3 separate regions of the Homo sapiens genome follow, and regions 2 and 3 are each linked to region 1. The links come from fine-mapping of genetic effects on gene expression. A gene starts in region 1. Each other region holds a variant in brackets. All regions are shown on one strand. Distances are from middle to middle.

Region 1 (6,753 bases):
CCTCAAATATAACTGAAGAAGGCTTTAGTGTCCAGCTGAAGGGACTGGCAAATAAACGTGTTAGGAAGACTCTGCAGTCACGTAGAAAAATGCTCATACAGGAACATGAAAGGAAAAAAGCAGGATCTAAAATTGAGGTGCACTCTGATTACAATTTAAGCAAGAATAAAAACGTGCATCAGAAAATAAGACTAAAAGGAAGAATGTGTTTGTGCAATAAAATTAGTTTCTTATTTTCTCCTCAATTTTCTGTAATGTATTTACAGTAGGTTGCTTTTTTAATGAAGGAAAAATTCAAAGTTAGCAATTTACACACAAAAAAATTGAAGTTATTTTGTGGTTTCCTGCTGAGTGCAGGACACCGTCCACATCTCTTAACCATGCCTGAGAAGCCTCCCAAGTCCAGCTCCTCCACTGTAACACTGTCAGTGCTCACAGCCCCTGGCCAGCTTGCCTGCAGCTAGGAATGGAGACTCTGCAGTGACTAGTCCCAGGATGTTCCCATAGCCTTCTCTGAAAAAGCAAACTAATGCAACAACCCCAGGGTTCATCAGTAGGGAACTGGATCAATGAATTAGGCATCTCTATACAGGTTGGGTATCCTTTATCCAAAAGTTTGGACCAAAAGTGTTTTGGATTTTGGACTTTTTTGGAGTTTTGAATATTTGCATTGTATTTACTGGCTAAGTATCCCTAATCTGGAAATCTGAAATTCAAAATGCTCCAGTGGGAGCATTTCCTTTGAATGTCCTGTCAGTGCTCAAAAAATTTCGGATTCTAGAGCGTTTTGGATTTCAGATTTTTGGATGAGGGGTGCTCAACTTGTATAATAGAAATCAACATGGCTATTGAAAAGGGTGAGGTAGATTTATATGTACTCTCTGGAAAACAGACCCTAATGTGTTAAGGTGAAAAGGAAGGAATAACTAATACGGAGAGGCAGACCTTGCTTCTGGCAGGGGGAAGCATCTGTGCCTGTGCACTCGAGCCTTTGCAGTCACGTATAGCCGCGTTCTTTCATGAGTGTAGGAAGAGATCTTGAATAGCATCATCCAGTGGAAGTATAGTGTGAGTCACATGTAATTTAAACATGTCTAGTAGCCACATTAAAACAGTGAAACAGGTATAAATTCGGATGTGCTGGTTTAAATAAAAATATTGTTACAAATAATTTAATGCCCCACATGCAGCCCATCAGCAAACCCTGGGGGTTCTCCCACTCACTCTCCTCCGTCCCCCTACTCACTCCTCCCCCATCCTGCCATTCACTCTCCCCTTCCTGTGTTCTCAGCGATTGATCCCAGTGACCCAAGTGGGACCCCTGCTTTCTCTCCCGACAGCCAAGTTGTTGCTTTTGCCTCCTTCCTAGTGCCCAAAACTCCCCTCCTGGCCTCCCTCACTGTCCTATCTGTGCCTCCTTGTTTCTCACTTGGATTCCTATAACAGCCTCCTGACCCTGCCTCCGAGTCTCCATCTTTTACCCTTCACTATGAAGTCTCCTAGGCTTCCCCACCTCTGTATTCTGTTCTGATTGCACTCTTCCTTCCATCAGCCAACAAGCTCCGCATCATTCCTCAGCACCCAGCTTCCTCCTGTCTGAAGCTGGCCTTGACATCTCCTCCGTTAGGTCCCTCCCCCAGGATGTGCCTCTGTCCCTTTCCCAGACCTCTCCTCCAGTACCTGCCAAGCGATGCTAGGGACTGTCTGCCTCACTCATTATGCCTCTGCCTCATAATTCATGCTATTGATAATTATTTGTTCAGCAAATGAATGAAACAACGAATGAGTTATTTGTGTTCATTCTCTCTTCCAAGTTGACTGGTACTCCTTTGCTTAAAACTCCATTTTCTTCAAGATTAAGTCTGCACTCCTTATGCATAATCCCAGACACTGAGACGGATACCTGGCCAAGTGTATTATGTGCCTGTCCTGTTAAAGGCACACCACAGCCCCTTGAAGGAGATGCTGTGCTTATGTCTACTTTATAAATGAGGAAACTGAGGCTTAGAAAGGTTAAATCACTTGCTTAGGGTTGCAGTTGCTCAGGGGAGAAAGCAGGGGTCCATTTGGGTCACTGGGATCAATCGCTGAGAACATAGAAGGAAAGATCAAGGAAATGCAAACTGCAGCTTGAGAAGCACTGAGTTGGGACACTCAGGTGAATACTGCTGTCCAGGGGACACACAATACCTCAGGGCAGCGCTCAGCAAGGGGGCTGGGCCAGGGTCACTGTGTGAGAGAGGATGCATGGAGGCTTGGAGCAGATCTCAGTGACAGCTCACCTCTGCAAGGCTGGGCGGCCTCATTGGTGTGAATCAGATGCACCACATCTTCTTTTAGGAGTAGGTTTGGTTCCCTCCCTCTTTGCTACACATATAACAAACTCAGGTGGGGCCTGGTTTTCATTTTCTTCCATAAAGGGAAAATTAAGGTCCAGAAAGTGAAAAGAACTGCCCAGAGTCCTATAGGCCAGTGGTGCACCTGCGCACGTGGCCTGCACTCCAGCAGCAGGAGAGGAGGCAGCACATGGGGCGTTCGTTCTTGCCTGGGGGCTCCCCACGGCTCACTCCCCAATCTCAGCATCCTCTCCTCCCCTGTCAGCTCAGGGTCCTGCCAGTCATTCCCTGCCTCCTGGGGCACCAGGCTTTCCAGTCCCTAGTTCTACCCCCTGGGGATCAACTAATCAGCTTGTTTCTCCTCCAATAAGTATCCGTGTTCTTTAGGTGAAAAGCCCCAACCTACTGCAGGTTTTCAGGGTGCACCTTCAGTAGGCATTTGCCATTCCTGTTTACACTTTACACCAAGGCATTTGCACGGCGGGTAATGGGTGGGGTTGGGCTTTGAGTAGGACTGCCCGATCCCCCAGCCAGAGCTTCCAGCATGGCATTTGGGTTCCATTTGACCTGGGCCTAGCTCAGCCCTGAGGCTCATCTCACAAGGTTCTCGGCCCTGTTATTTCTCCCCGTGGGCTTGGCTTCTTCCCTTCGCACTCTATTCAGCTCCTGTCTGAGCTCCTGGAGGGCTGGCTGCAGCTGGGCTTCTCTGGTTCCTAGAAGCCTGGTCAAACCCCGTACTGGGAGCTGGCAAGGCTGCCTCGGGAGGTGCACTGTGGGAGGTGTGCGAGGTACTGCGTAAGGTACTACAGGAGCAGGAAAAGGCTGGAGGGGCTTTCTCCCCCTCTGTGGCTGTCCCACCCTCTTCACCAGCCTCCTCCCAACCAGGGTAGGGCAAACCGATGCTTATTCTGGGCTCTGGGCCTCAGCCAGGGCACACAGGCAGAGTTGGTCTTGTGAACTCCTGTGGTCAGGCCTGGGAGGGTGCTGAGACCCAGGACTGGGTGGGACCCACCAGCTCCTCCTGCCCCTCCTATGCCCCAGCCTGGGAGCCCGTGGTCTGTGGAGGCCCCTGATCAGTCCACTCCTCCACATTTCTTGTTCAGGTTCTACCTGCAGAAGGTGGTCCCTCAAGCTCCACCCTGTGCCCTGCTCCCCACTCTCGTTGGCTTCAAGAAAGGGTTAAAGATCAGCCATTAGGTCTTAAGGGGGCACAGGTTCCTAGTCCTGGACCATCAGTCCCAGTGGGGATAGAGGGAGCTCTCAGTTACAGTCGGGGAGGGAATGTACCCCCGGGTCTCTGCTTTCCGGCTCGCCAAGGGGGTTTAGAGTTAAGGGAAGCAAGGGGAGTCCAGCTTTTCATTGGCTACAAAATCTTGTGGAATACAACCTCCCCCACCCCGGTGTCCATGCACACGGATTGTCTTTCTTCTCCTGGGGCAATGTCCCCTCTCGGAGCCACCTTTCCCCAGGACTGGAGGCTCAGCTGGTACTCCTGGGCTCACTCTGGTGCCTCCCCTTGGTACTGTTTTAGCCATCAGACTGGATCCCTCTTAGCTCAGCTGTCCCCAAGCTTTCTTCCTCTCCATACCATTGTCCCCCCTCACCTGAGTCCCTCCTTGAGAGCCATATGGGGAAGCAGGTAGGATGGCCTGGAGCAAACTTTCCCAGCTTAGAGCTGGGGAAGAAATGGCCTGCTCCTGGAGATCTGGAACAAGCAGCTCCTCCCCCTTTACCTGAGGAGCTGCACCCACAGGAGCAGTCAGGATGGACTGCCTGCGAGGGACCTGCCGGGGATGCAACCTTTTGGGGGAAGCTGGCCCCAAGGTGGAGTGGGGCTGGCAACCCTTTTGGGGCCAATCACCTGGAAGAGGGTGGGTCTGAGTAGGCCAGTTCTGGTTGGCTGGAGGCTCTGTCATTTTGTACAGACTCCTCTTCCCTCCCCAGGGGAAGTGTCTTTGGTTCTTGGGAACAGCTGGCAATCAAGGTATGGTGTTTGCCACGCAGGAAAAGCCGTTCTGCACAGAGCCTCAGCCAGATCTGAAGGGCACTCGGCACCTGTGACCTTGGACAGTTCACCTAGTGGAGCCCTTTACCTTCTCAGTAGAATGTACACCAGTACATACACCAGTCACCCAGGAGAGAGAACCATGTAAATTCGTGGATGTTGAACCGTTGTGATTTACTCTGGGCAGTGCTTTTTAAAGTTCCAGTTGTGACCTATCTGAAGGCCGTGTAATGAGTTTAGTGGGTCGTGACCAAGATTTTTAAAATACGAACAGGAATACAATGGAAAATATTCTATATTGTACGTAAGGGTAGGTTTTGTTTCATGAAATGTTTGTTTCAGTTGATAGATATTGAAATGTGTATACAAGTTTGGGAAATATTTCTTTAAATTGTGGATCATGATGGAAATAGGTCTGTGAAATTCAGTGTGAAGTGTAAACAACAGGAATAGCAAATGCCTATTGCAGGTGCACCCTGCAAACTTGCAGCAGGTTGGAGCTTTTCATCTAAAGAAGATGGATACTTATTGGTGTGAATCAAATTCACCACATCTTCTTTTAGGAGTAGGTTTGGTTCCCTCCCTCTTTGCTACACACAACAAACTCAGGTGGGGCCTGGTTTTCATTTTCTTCCATAAAGGGAAAATTAAGGTCCAGAAAGTGAAAAGAACTGCCCAGAGTCCTATAGGCCAGTGGTGCACCTGCGCACGTGGCCTGCACTCCAGCAGCAGGAGAGGCGGCAGCACATGGGGCGTTCGTTCTTGCCTGGGGGCTCCCCAGGGCTCACTCCCCAATCTCAGCATCCTCCTCCTCCCGTCAGCTCAGGGTCCTGCCAGCCATTCCCTGCCTCCTGGGACAGGCTTTCCAGTCCCTAGTTCTACCCCCTGGGGATCAACTAATCAGTGTGTTTCTCCTCCAAGACAGTTCCATTTTAATAGGCTTTCCAAAGAGGAGTTATTAAGATGTGAGTGTTGGTTCTTGAAAGTTACTTTCAAGTAAGTAATTGTCCTTTAGAGACTGTGATTCAGTAGGTTGTGGCCTGACCCTCAAACCACCCCCACCCCTGCTTTTTTTTTAAAAAAAAATAGGGTTTTTGTCTGTCACCTGGGTTGGGGGTGCAGTGGTGCAATCATAGCTCACTGCAGCCTTGAACTCTTGGGCTCAAGTGATCGACCTCAGCCTCCAGAATAGCTGGGATTACAGGTATGCACCACCTTGCCATTTTTTGGTATTTTTTTGTAGATATGGGGTCTCTCTATGTTGCCCAGGTTGGTCTCAAACTCCTGGCCTCAAGCAATCCTCCCACATCGGCCTCCCCAAAGTGCTGGGTTTACAGATGTGAGCAGCCATAACCTAAATTTTTAACAGGTAGAAATGGTCCCTTAGGGAAAAACCTGATGAAGGGGGAGGAGCAGTAAGGCCAAGCTGCCTCTTTTTCCCCTCCCCCCATAGATGTGGGGTAGATTTCACTCCACGCAAGAGGGCACATGGTTATTCTGTGCTTCACCCCAGTCTCATTTCTAGCACAGTGCCTGGTTCAGAGGCATGTGGTCAACACAGGTCACGGTTAGCAGCACACACGTCTAATCCAGCCAGCTCACCTGCCTCTCATTTGCACTTCCACGTTCATGCTTGTGCCTTTGCACTTATGCCTCGGTCTGGAATGCCCTTTCTCCTTCTTTATTCAAGGCTTAGATGCCTCATCTCTGCCCTAATCATTTTCTATTTGAGCATGCAAAAGTGCTCAGTGAACCAAAGCCATCCCAAGGCTATTCTGGATGCTGTGCAGCTCTATCGAGAGGTGTGTGCTGGAAGATGGGAGAGTCTGGGTTCTGCCCCAGGTGTCCAGAGGCTGCTAGCCCAACAGTCATCATCTCCCAAGTGGGAATGGCGGGTAGGGGGGCGCAGAGCAGAAAGGGCTTCTGGACCCTCTCACTCCAAGGGACACCGTGTGAAGAAAGCTGGTATCTACCGTGTGAACTGCAGCTGAGGGCACCCTCAAATGACCCAGCTCCAGAAAAGTGTGGAGGATATGCCATCCACTTAAGGTCCCTTCCCCAGCCCAGGGACCCACCTGTCTGTATGGGTGAAAAGTAGCCATTTGGGCCCAGAGACAGGCATTCCTAGGGGAGAAAGGCACCAAAGAGACAGATTTTACAGATTTATTTTTAAAAAACAAAACAAAGGTTAAAAAAGTCCTTCATTTCCAACCCTGCCTGGGGGTGTGGGTGGGGAATAGAATAAGCTCAGAAAGGTGCCTACCTCCTTCCTGCAAAGGACACGGCAGGTCAGAGGCAGGCCCTCGCCCTTTCTGCCCTGCCTCCTCCTCAGGTAGCTCAAATTGCTGCTAGGAAGATTTATAGGCAAAGAAGTGTGGGAGTGGGAGGCCAAGAGCTGCCTTCTTCACATCA
Region 2 (5,000 bases), 39 kb after region 1:
GCGAAAATTCTTATATTTTTTAGTATCCCTTCAGTGTCTAGCTCATGCCTTGTTTGGAGTAGGGATTCAGGAAATTCAGCTCAGAGATTGTCTTTGCACAGATCACTCTCTGGCTAGTGCCAGGCCAGCCTAGGATGAAGCAGCTCAGCTGAATCTGTCCTGTTTAAAAACTGCCCTCCACAGAGACTTCCACGGCTGGAGAGCTAGCCAAGTGCATGGCAGGCCACAGCTGGAGGCCCGCAAATGGATTTTTACAACTAAAGCCTCATGCCAGTAAGGATAAAGGTGAATTCTGGGTCCTGAGCTCACGTTTTAAATGGATCCTGTGATGCAACAGGTGCAAAGTAAGCAGGTTTCAAACTGAGTTAGGGGAGGTGCCTTCCTTCTTGAATTTTGTCTGTTCACATGCAAGTTTTGAATGGTCTCATCCCAGCCCAACGTGAAATTCCAAGCAGAATTCCAATAGGAATGGAAAGGACAGAAATAAGATGTGTTACAAAGGAAAAGCAAAATGGTCCTTGGTGACTGACTGTCGTAGTCAGAGAGAGAGGGACTATGGATGGCCCAGAGGGGTTTAGTATGGATGATACTGAATGACAGGTTTGGGAAACTTGGACACCAGTGTGATGTTGAGGGAAGTGTGTTGGGTTTGGGTTGATGGCGGAACCTTTGTGGAAATGCCAGCAGACATTTGGTGATTATAAACTGACCCCAATCTAAGCTGTGTCTCCTTATCTCACATTGAATAGGTCGGAATTTAACAATCAGGCACTTTTGAGAAGACTGTTGATAAGGCACCTGGGAGACACTGAAGAGGCCACACAGGACTTTGTTAGGCCCCCACAGCCAAAATGATCTGCAAATGTTGGGCATGTCACTGCAAATGCAACCAAAACTTTTTCTCCTGTAATGCAAAATCATGGATTCCTGCTCCTGGGATGTGGAATCATTCTTAGGGGCTGCCTATGTGAGGTGGGAGCTGGAGATGGTTCCAGGTCAGGGAGGCTAAGAGGATCAATGGCATGCCCCACTACTTGCTGGCTGTGCGGCCTGAGACAAGGTACTCTTCTTTCTCAGGGCTTCAGAGTTTAATCTGTGAAAGAGGAGGTCTGGGCTAGGTGATCACATAAATCTCTTCCACATCTAGAATTTGATGGAGTGGCTATAGCAGAAAAGTAGTTTACAATTCAGGGTTAATAAGGAGGAAAAAGGATTACAGAGGGAAAAGGTTCTAAATCTCTACAGCATAAAGAGTATAGGTAGGGACAACACACATTTGTTTTCCCAAAAGACTGGGAAAGGGGACTGCTTGCCTGGCTTCTATTCCTGTGCTTCCTCTCCTATCCCATTCCCTCCCCACCCTGTGCTGCTCATGGAAAACTGAAAGCAATTGTTTTAGGACAAACGAGGCTACTATACACCAAGGCTGGAAATCAAGCTCATAAGGCTTGAATCAATTTATAGATCAGAGACCCAAAGGTATTTGGGGTATATATTAATACATCCTTAACTTTTTGAGGTTAATAAAAACAAAGATCATGATTTAACTCCAGCATTATCCTGGATCAAAAAAAAATCCTTTTGTTTCGAGTACTGCAGTAGAGGAAGGGTCTTCCTGATTCCAGTTTCTTCTCTCTGTAATCCAGCTTAGAGAGAGCAAACTAATCTTCCTAGTGCACAGATCTGATCTCTCACTAAAAACCGCCAGGGACTCTCCTTTGTCTACGGTTGTCTAAAGCCCCTGGCAGACATTCAGGATCTCTTTACAACATAAACCAACCTTTTAATTTTTATTATTTCTTTGACCCAAGCAATCTTTACTGTTCACTGTACCCTGTACAGAGTATATGCCTTTTCTCATACTGTCTAGAGTGCTACAAATCAAATTCTAGTCACCATTCTCTGGTCTTTACAGCTGACAGGACTTTCCCCTTTCTCTGAGATGACAATCAGGCCGCTTTGCTTTGCACTGCCCTCAGAGAAGCAGTGTGCCCAGAAGTCAAGTGTGAGCTCTTGAGTCAAAATGCTTGGATTTGAATTCCAACTCTGCTGCTTACCAGCTGTGTGACATGGGGTGAGTGAGTTACCTGACCTCTCTGTACCTCTATGTCATCATCTTTAAAATGGAGGTAAGGATGACACCTATCTCAGAGTTATTTCAGTAAGTGACTTATCTCTTTTAGTAGGCAGAATTTATGTGAGACATTTGTTTCCTCCAAAATATCTTGAATTTAGTAGATGCTCAATCAATATTG[CTGAA/C]TGAATGAATGAATGACAGACAACATGGTGGGACTTGTTTATCCTACAAGACTTGTTCTCAAGGCTTCAAATATGCAGGAAACGACTCACTGTCCCAGAAATGCTGGGACTCTTGCCGCAAAGTATATGGGAGCTGCAAGCATACCAGTTATAGTTACAGGACTACTTATGCACTCATTTTCCTAGAAGTCCACTATAGTTGACTAGAGTTTGATGTTACCTGGCCTACCAGCAAGGAGAATGTGCCTGTGGGAGAGGAATGGCAGATCTTTTTACTAGCCACTACCCTTAAGGGAAGATACACTTTCAACCATTCACTCACTCAACAAACAATTTATTAAGCACCCACCACACACCAAGTACTATGGTTGGTACTGGCTAAGACATGGTCCCTAGAAGAGATTACAGTTTAGTAAAAGAGATGGAAGACAGATACTCTCACCATAATTTGGTAAATATTATGATAGGTGATAAGCACAGAATATTGAGAACACGGAAAAGGGGATTCAGCTTTGGAAGGAGAGCAGAGAAGGTTTCCCAGAGCAAGTAAGTGTTTAACATGATTCAGAGTTAGGAAGATGACAAAAGGAACAGCATTCGGGAAGACTCAGAGGCATAAAATACTATGGTGAATTCAGGGATCTCCAGGGCATCATGTATAGTTGAAAGCCAAGGTGTCTAAGAGAGAGGAGTCAGAAAGGAGGCAGTTTTTGGCTGGGTCTAAGTTACGCTAGCACCTTCTAGGGGCTGCTTATCCCTAAAGATGTCTCATGTGATTAGGCTTCATGAGGTAACTAAGGTTAGAGTTAGCTCTAGAGGTCAGTGCTCTGCATACACAAGAATAGACAAGGAAGCTCCTTTTAGAAAACCCTAAAGCAATAGCCACACAAATTTTCCATGATGCATTCCCTTGGCATGGGGTCAGGAGGAGTTTGAGAGGGGAAGTAGAGCTAAGGGAAGTTTACCTGTAAGAAACTTGCAAAACGGTGTTGGGTTGCCAGCTGCAGGGGCACTCTATGATAGTCTGATTATGCTTGAAGGTTCTTAGGCCTGTTCTGCAGCCCTCTGGAAAAACTACCAAATACTTGCTGTGTACAGGATACTTTGCTAAGCAGCTTGGAGCATTATAAAAGAAAATGTTATCTGCATCTCTGCCCCTACCCTGCCCTTGGCAGAGGATGGCAGGATAGCATAAGTGGATAAACGCATGGGTTTTAGAGTCAGTCAGATCTGGGTTTAAATCTTGGCTCTGACACTGATAGGCTGTGCAATCTTAGATAAATTGCTCAACCTCTCTGTATCTTGACTTGCTGTTCTGTAAATGGTGACACATACCACATAGTTGTTAGTATCAAATGGACTATTTTGTTTAAACCACAAAGAGATTCACTGCCTTTGCTCAACACTTGGTACCTAGTAGATGCTCAGTAAATGGTAGCTATTCTTAAAATACTACCTGTTATCTGTGTGTTGCTTTGAACTTCTCAAAGAATTTTTATCATTTAAATCTAATTTATTTCTAACAAGAAGCCCATGAGGCAATTGAGAAGTGTTTTTATTTTACAAGCAAGAGCTGAGAGTAGTTTCCAAGTGACTTGTACAATGCAGTAAGTGAAGGGGAACTTGACTTCATTTGACAGGTGAGGCATGGTGCCTTGCATATTACAAGACGCTGATGGCCAAGTGAATAACACAAGTCAGTAAGGACAAAAAAGGTCAAAAATGCTGATGGCCAAGTGAATAACAGAAGTCAGTAAGGACGAGCGAGTACCGCAAGCCTAGGAGTATTAGTTGCAGGCAGTTGAGAATACTGGAGGCAATCTTGGAGGTATGGACAACAAAAAGGGATTGTTAACGCCAGGAGGCAGGGAGGAAAAGGGCATATGACAGGCCAAGAAAGTCACAAAGGGGTAGGAGTGGGAGAGAAGAGACAACAGCATATTTGCTTGGCCATAACAGAGCGTCTGCATGAGGACACCACGAGCAGTCAGGTGCAGTGGGCAGTGGGGGGAGGGTCTTTAAGGTCCCCCATGAAGTCAGATAGTCAGAAGTCATTAACATGATATTGAGTGAGCCCTTACTATAGACTAGGCATTCCAGCTGATCAAGGAGGACATAAAGACACAGTGAAGGTTTTTGTTTTTTGTTTTTTTGAGATGGAGTTTCGCTCTTGACGCCCAGGCTGTAGTGCAATGGCATGATCTCTGCTCACTGCAACCTCCGCCTCCTCGGTTCAAGCAATTCTCCTGCCTCAGCCTCCCAAGTAGCTAGGATTACAGGCATGAGCCACCACACCTGGCTAATTTTTGTAGTTTTAGTAGAGATGGGGTTTCACCATGTTGGCCAGGCTGGTGTCAAACTCCTGACCTCAAGTGATCCGCCTGTCTCGGGGCCTCCCAAAGGGCTGAGATTACAGGCGTGAGCCATCGTGCCTGGCCACAGTGAAGGTTTTTAAACAAGAAGGAAATAACAGTCTCTGAGGGAGATAATTCTAGCAGTTGTGAGTAGGATATCCTGGCGATCAGTTCAGCCTCATCCCGTCAGCAGGCCTTAAGCAAAGCAGGAAGCCAAAACAAGAGGAAGTCTCATCAGAACCTGGTGACAAACTGGTGATAAGCTGGGTGGTGATGGAGCGTGGGAATGAGGGAGGGCTTTCTCTGTGCCGGTCACTTGCACAGGCCATCTCAGTCATTTACAGCCCATAGGAAATATAATCACCTCTGTTTTACGGATGAGGAAAT
Region 3 (6,753 bases), 160 kb before region 1:
AAGGAGCAAGGACTGGTGTTTATAGACAGGATCAGGGAGGTAAGCATGAACTTTCATGGTTTTCTCTGCCCCCAAGGGCACTGTGAGGCTCAGGAAGGGTGAAGTAGTGAAGGGCACAGGTTTGGTGCCTGACAGTCTGCGTAAGGACTCTAGCTCTGGGTCTCTAGCTATGGCAACGTCAGTTGCCTAAGAGCTGTGAACCTTAGTTTTCTTATCTGTGAAAGGAGTAACAAAAACTGCATTGTAGGATTGTGGTGAAGATGAAATGAGGGGGTGTTGTTGTGCGCACTCCAAGGCGCAGAGAAAGAGCCTGGTTATTGAAGACTGCAATTCTAATAAGCGTTTCCCGGAAGTCTTCATTGAGAGACGGGTTCTGAGCCGGGGCCTGAGGGATGGGCAGGATGTCAGTTGGGGGTCAGGGGAACAGGCAGAGGGAGCCGCATGAGGAAGGGCTTAACGTCAGGACGACACGGGCTATAGAAGTGCGGCCAGGCTGCAGCAGCATGTGGGGCCTGCCTCTGCAATTTTACTTTGTGGGATTCTGGCTGGGAGTTCATGGAGTCAGAAACCCCACTGTGTTCAGTGCCCAGGGCTCTGTGGGAGGCTCTACAAAGGCTCAATTAGGGCCTGTTCCCTCCCCGACGCGCGGCTGCTGGCCTGCAGGAAGAACTGCTGGCGGTGGGCCAGCCTCGCTGCGCATGCCCACCCAGAACGCCAGGCAGACAAAGGGGGGCGGACGAGAGTCTGGGGATGCACGGCCAGGCTGCCGTGGCCTTCCTGAGCCCCCTCACCCGGGGAGGGTGGAGGCCTCTGCAGCGGCATGTTGCTGATGGGGAAGATGGGGTCCGTCGTCCCTGCACCACCTGGAGCTGCCCTCCACAGGCGCCCAGACTCCGCAGCTACTCCTCTGGCTCCTCCTAGACCACTCTGCAGCACTTAGCCCACTCGCCACCCTCTCCTAGTTGAAAGTTCTGCTTTGCCTCCCATCTCTGTGACTGCTGCCTCTCTGCCTCCCATGTTCCTCGGGGCTCATCCAGGTCAGCGCCTTCCATCCTCACCCTGAACACCTGCCCCCATTTTCAACTTGAACTGCTTTAAGGATGGTTCCCAAGTCCATATAGATGGCCTTGCCTGTCTCCTGAGTGCCACACCCATTTTTCCAACAGTCTCCCCAACACATCCCTCTGGGGTCCCACAGGTCTTTCCAACTCACTTGGTCTACAAGTCAACTCTTGTCTTTGCCAGCAAACTCACTGTCAGAGTGATCCTTCTAAAGTGCCAACTGAATCACAGATGATCCTGAGTTTAGGAACCTTCTTTAGCTCCTTGACACATAGTAAAATGCTGAACTCTTTAGTCTGGCATTCAAGGACCTTCTCAATTTAACCCTAGCTTACCTCCCTAGCGCCACTGCATTGCAACTCCACCTGCCTAGAATGACCCTACCCAAACCCTGTATTCAACTGGCAAACTCCTACTCATCCTGCAAGACCTAGCTTGAAAGTGACCTCTTCAGAGATAACTTTCCTCTCTTTCAGGCACTTGGATGTTCCCAGAGCCTTTTGTCAACAGTCTTAATACATTGTCCCACATTTTCTGTCTCCCTGGCTAGTAAGTGGGCCCCTGCTGGGTAGGAATGACATCTCCCTCGGCTCTGCACCCCTGTGCCCATCCCAGAGCCTGGTACAAGGCTGGCAATCAGGAGTTGCTTGAGGGGTGAAGGAGGGAAGAGTCTTGTCTGAGATTGCTCCGTAGAGCTGGGTGCAGGCTCCAGCTTCTTTCCAGGCTGGGGTTTCAATGTCTCAAGGACGAGAGAGGATGGGAGGGAAAGGGGGGAAGGCAGGGACAGGGCAGCCAGCAGTGGAACATCAGAGTGACAGCCACCCCTGGAGCCCCAAGTACATTCCCGATGAGTCCTACTGACCTACCTGGCTTGCTGACTACAAAGCCATAGCTCTTGCAGGACACCCCAGGAGACATCCCAGCTGCACTATGCACTGGGCTCTGACAGGACTGGATGGTAAGCTCCCAAGTTGCCATTTTCTAGCTGTGGGACTTCAGGTTGGTCCCTCAACCTCTCTGTGCCTCAGTTGCCTCACTGATAAGATTGAGATAACAACAGTTCCTACCTGGGACGATTTTTTTTCTTTCCTGTTTTTTTGGTTTTTGTTTTTGTTGTTTTTTATTTTTTTGAGATGGAGTCTCACTCTTGTTGCCCAGGCTGGGGTGCAGTGGCTCGATATTGGCTCACTACAACCTCCACCTCCTGGGTTCAAGCAATTCTCCTGCCTCAGCCTCTTGAGTAGCTGGGATTACAGGCACCCACCACCATGCCCAGCTAGTTTTTGTATTTTTAGTAGAGACGGGGTTTCACCATATTGGCCAGGCTGGTCTTGAACTCCTGACCTCAGGTGATCCGCCCGCCTCAGCCTCCCAAAGTGCTAGGATTACAGGCGTGAGCCACTGTGCCTGGCCGATTTTTTTTTCCTTTCAATCACTTTTTTTATAACTACTTATTGTGTGCCAGACACTGTGCTAGGTTTTAGGGAATCCTGCTCTCGTGGAGGTGACATTCTGTGAGGTTGGCAGGATAATGAAGAGGAACACAATTCTCAGCACAGAGAAAAGTTCTGCTCAACTGGTGCACCCCATTTATTCTAGTTCTTTCCAGGGCAGAGTCACCCTTTCCCCAACCCCCTCCTTTCAGCTCTGTGGCTGGGGAAACAGCCCCCACCCCAACCCACCACATCCCTTGGAACACCCTAGGGCCTGGAGGTGCTGGGGCCCTTTCAGAAAAACACCCTGCCAAGAATGCATCACCCCGCCAGGGCGCCGACCAAGGAAAACAGAGGGCCTGAGGAGGGAGATCAGACAGGCCCTCAGGCCAGGCCATTGGAGGGGCAGGCGCAGCAGGAAAGCCGAGTCAGGCACCAGGTGAAATATGACCTCCAAAGCATCCATAGGCATTTCTTGTATAAACACCCCAGTCCAGACAGGAAGTGGGGCTGGGGGAACTCGAGGGGGATGTGGCCCCACAGGACCCCCCAGAGGCAGACAGATGGACAGGAAAGCGGGGGAGGAAGAGGTCAGTGGAGAAAAACAAAGAGGGTGTGGGATGTGGAGAGAAGAGAGTGCTGCTGGGGAGAAGGAACAGCCCATAATACTCCGCTCTCATACAGAGAGAGGCTTCCATTTGCTTCTCATCATCCAAGAGGTACAGAATCACCAGACAGTTGGGGAAACTGAGGCTGCAAGAAGCAATGAGGCCAGCATCCTGTGACTGTTTATCATCTGTTGCCCCCGAGGGTCCTGCCCAGAGGCACTCTGGAATGTTCTGTGAAGAATTGTTTGTCATGACCTTCCTGAGACCCCACAGTGGGTTGGTGGCCAAGCTGGGGCATAGATCTGGGTTTCCAATGGTGTCTTCAGGCCCCAGGATGACCTCCAGAGGCCCAGCGCATTCCTAAGGCTCTGCCGCAGCTCCTGCTGACAGAGCGGGGTCAGCCTGAAATCACCCCAGGCCTCACGACACAGAGTCACTCTGTATAGTGGGGACTCCACCCGGCACCTTCCAGTCCCAGAGTGCTGGACTGAGCCTGGCAGTCCCCACTGGACAGATGGGAAGGCTGGGGACCCAGGAAAGCATGCAATTTACCCAAAGTCACACAGTGAGTTAGTGGTGGGATCAGAACCCATGTCCTTCTCAAGTCAGTGGAAAAGT[C/CTGTT]TGTTTGTTTGTTTGTTTGTTTGTTTCCCAAACCACGGTAGCCAGAGACTGCAGAGTTTGGCCCTACCTTTCAGAGTCTGTATCCCATGGCCTGAGCTTAAGGGGAGATGATACCAGGGCTGGGCCACCTCTGGAGGGCTTCGAGGGGACATGCTCAGGATTGACTCCTAGGCAATGGGCTTATTCATTCATTCATTCATTCATTCATTTTAGAGACAGGGTATCACTCTGTCACCCAGGCTGGAGTGCAGTGGCATGATCATGGCCTACTGCAGCCTCAAACTCCTGGGCTCAGGCAATCTTCCCATCTGTCTCAGTCTCCAGAGTAGCTGGGACTACAGGCATGTGCCACTACGCCTGGCTATATTCAATTTTTTTTTTTTTTTTTGTAGAGAAGGCATCTCGTTATATTGGCCAGGCTGGTCTCAAACTCCTGGGCTCAAGCCATCATCTTGCCTCGGCCTCTGAAGAGACTGGGACTACAAGTGTGTGTCACAACACCAGGGTTGGGCGGTTTTAATAAGGGGAGAGGAGAAAGAGACTGAGCACATTCCCCAGCCCTTCAGGAGGCAGGGGGTTTCCGGAGGGTCCCGGGACCCGCCTCAACTTCCACCCAAAGTGGGAAGGGAGAAATGGCCCCGTCCTTAACCGAGGGACCAGCCCACATCCTTGCCGCCAGTCATGATGGGGTGGGTGCCGCCCCATTGAACTTCACGGATGCCCTACCCTCTTCCCCACCCTGCCCTTCTCACTCCAGGTTTGGCTCCTTGAAGCCAGGTTTCCACCGCACACCCGAGGCCCCGCCCCTCTTCCCCAGCTGGCCCCGCCCCTCGAAGCCCTGCCCTCATCTCTGCCGGCCCCACCTCCGCGCCCCGGCCAGGCTCACCTTGGTCTCCGCCAGTTGTCGCTTGAGCAGCTGCAGCGCTTCGGTGTGTTCCCGCTCGCTGTCTTGAAGGGCCTGAAGTTGGTCCTTCAGCTCCCTCTGAAACACACACAGGGCCGGGATGGGGGCAGGGGCCATGCCTGGCCCAGGCATTCAGCCCTGACCACTGCCAGGCGCTGGGGGTTAGCCTGGTCTCTGTCCCCAACCTCCAACACTTGCCTCCCGTCACAGTTCAACCACCAGCAAGTCCTGTAGAGTCTGTCTCCTAAACACCTCCAGAACCCGTCCGTATCTTTCACCTGCATCTTTGCAACAACCTCCTCCTCTTTGGCCACCCTAGAGGCTTCTGTGACAATCGACTTCCACATACACACTCTCTGGCTCCCCACACTTGGCCCTGGATCCCCGCTTAGAATTAAGGCAGGGGTCTCCAACCCCCAGGCCACAGGTGGGTATTGGTCCATAGCTTGTTAGGAACCTGGACGCACAGCAGGAGATGAACAGTGGTGGGGAGGGGCAAACCATCTGTATTTGCAGCCGCTCCTCATCGCTGGCATTACCACCTGACTCCACCTCCTGTTGGATCAGTGGTGGCATTAGATTCTCACAGGAGTGTGAACTGCACATGGGAGGGATCTAGGTTGCCTGCTCCTTATGAGAATCTAATGCCTGATGATCACTCACTGTCTTCCATCACCCCCAGATGGGACTGTCTAGCTGCGGAAAAACAAGCTCAGGGCTCCCACTGATCCTACATCATGTTGAGTTGTGTAATTATTCCATTATATATTACAATGAAATAATAATAGAAATAAAGTGCACAATAAATGTAATGTGCTTGAATCATCCTGAAACCATCACCCCACCCCCACCCCCTGCGGTTTGTGGAAAAATTGTCTTCCATGAAGCTGGTCCCTGGTGCTAAAAAGGTTGGGGACCACTGCTCTAAGGAACCAAAGCTGTACCAGTCCAATGCTACAGACTAGCTGCCAACATTCTCCGAGGGCTACAGTGGGCTGGGCACAGTTCTTAGCTCTTTGCTTATATTAAATCATTTGGGCCTCTCAGTAACCCTAAGGGAGGCACAATTATTATCTCCATCTTCTGATGGAGAAAAAGATACAGAGAGGTCAAGAAACTGGCCCCATAGCATACAGATAAACATATAATGGTAAAGAAGGAATTGGAACCCGGACAGCCTGGTTGTGGAGACCATGATCTTGATGCCAGGTGACACGTTTTCTACCATGATGACTCCTGCGATGAATAACAACAAATCCACAACACACAAGATATCAAAATTTTAAATAAAAACACAATCAGCCTCACTGATTTTTCCTTTGTCTCAGGTTCCAGTGTGGCTCAGCAGAGCATTGTTAGTGATCCTGGCCTTGTTTGAAATGTTGAATTTTGTTCATCGTGGGTTTTTTGCATTAATTTTGATTTAAGAAATATTGCATTAAATACTATTCATCTTGATTGCTGAGTTTGGGGCACCCTCTGATCCCACCTCTGTCTCCAACACCCTCCCCCATCACTCCCATCCAGCCAGTGGCCTTCTTCCTGTGCCTCCACCATCTTGAGCTCGTTCCAATCTTCAGACTATGCCCTGGCTATTCCCTCTGGCTGGTGGCCTCCACTCTCAGAGTTTCTCACGGTGACTCCTTTGTACCATTAATTTAACTCAGATGCCACCTCCTTGAAGAGTCTTGCCTGACCGCCCCACGCACAGTGGCACCTCCTCATACCCTGTCACACATCTGGATTCACGGTCTTCCTTGCGCCTTCTGCTGTCTGAATATATTTGACTGTGTGTTTATTGCTTATCTCCTCACTAGAATGTGAGTTTCATGAGAGTAGTAGGAATCTTGTCTGGCTTGTTCCCTGCCTTATGCCCAGGGACTCAGTGATTATTTGTCAAGTGATAAATGGGTTGTGGAGGTGAGTGCTCCCTAGCACAGGGTCCAGCTGTCTGCAGGCATTGGGAATCTAGCCCATTGTATTATCGCCAGTTGTTCTCCTGTCTGTCTCTTCTTCGTCCCCGTATTGGCCCACAAGTCCTCCAGGGTGGCTCCTACTGCTCCCTCTCCATATACCTCACACCCAGCAACAGCCTGGCACTGAGATGGGACTCAATGACGCTTGCTGC

What was found. PIP is the estimated chance that this variant, and not a neighbour inherited with it, causes the effect.
Region 2: its variant is the best candidate, but not a certain one, in a credible set for the expression of A3GALT2 in whole blood (GTEx, PIP 0.66).
Region 3: its variant is the best candidate, but not a certain one, in a credible set for the expression of A3GALT2 in whole blood (INTERVAL, PIP 0.71).

What each region holds. Positions count from the first base shown.
Region 1 is chr1:33,317,136-33,323,888 of GRCh38, forward strand. A3GALT2 (alpha 1,3-galactosyltransferase 2) reads right to left here and starts at 3,963. Exons shown (of 5, transcript NM_001080438.1): 1 at 3,941-3,963. The coding sequence starts at 3,963. PHC2 (polyhomeotic homolog 2) reads right to left here. Exons shown (of 15, transcript NM_001385109.1): 15 at 6,491-6,753.
Region 2 is chr1:33,356,946-33,361,945 of GRCh38, forward strand. All of the region lies in intron 7 of PHC2 (polyhomeotic homolog 2), which reads right to left. PHC2-AS1 (PHC2 antisense RNA 1) reads left to right here. Exons shown (of 3, transcript NR_125978.1): 2 at 1,916-2,129. Among named protein-coding and RNA genes, the nearest start is that of PHC2-AS1, 9.1 kb to the left of the region's middle. The variant CTGAA/C (reference allele first, on the strand shown) is at 2,256.
Region 3 is chr1:33,160,864-33,167,616 of GRCh38, forward strand. It overlaps TRIM62 (tripartite motif containing 62), which reads right to left. Exons shown (of 5, transcript NM_018207.3): 2 at 4,608-4,703. It also overlaps a transcript of AZIN2 not described here and a transcript of ZNF362 not described here. Among named protein-coding and RNA genes, the nearest start is that of TRIM62, 18 kb to the right of the region's middle. RefSeq lists enhancers at 2,316-3,048, 3,049-3,781. The variant C/CTGTT (reference allele first, on the strand shown) is at 3,722.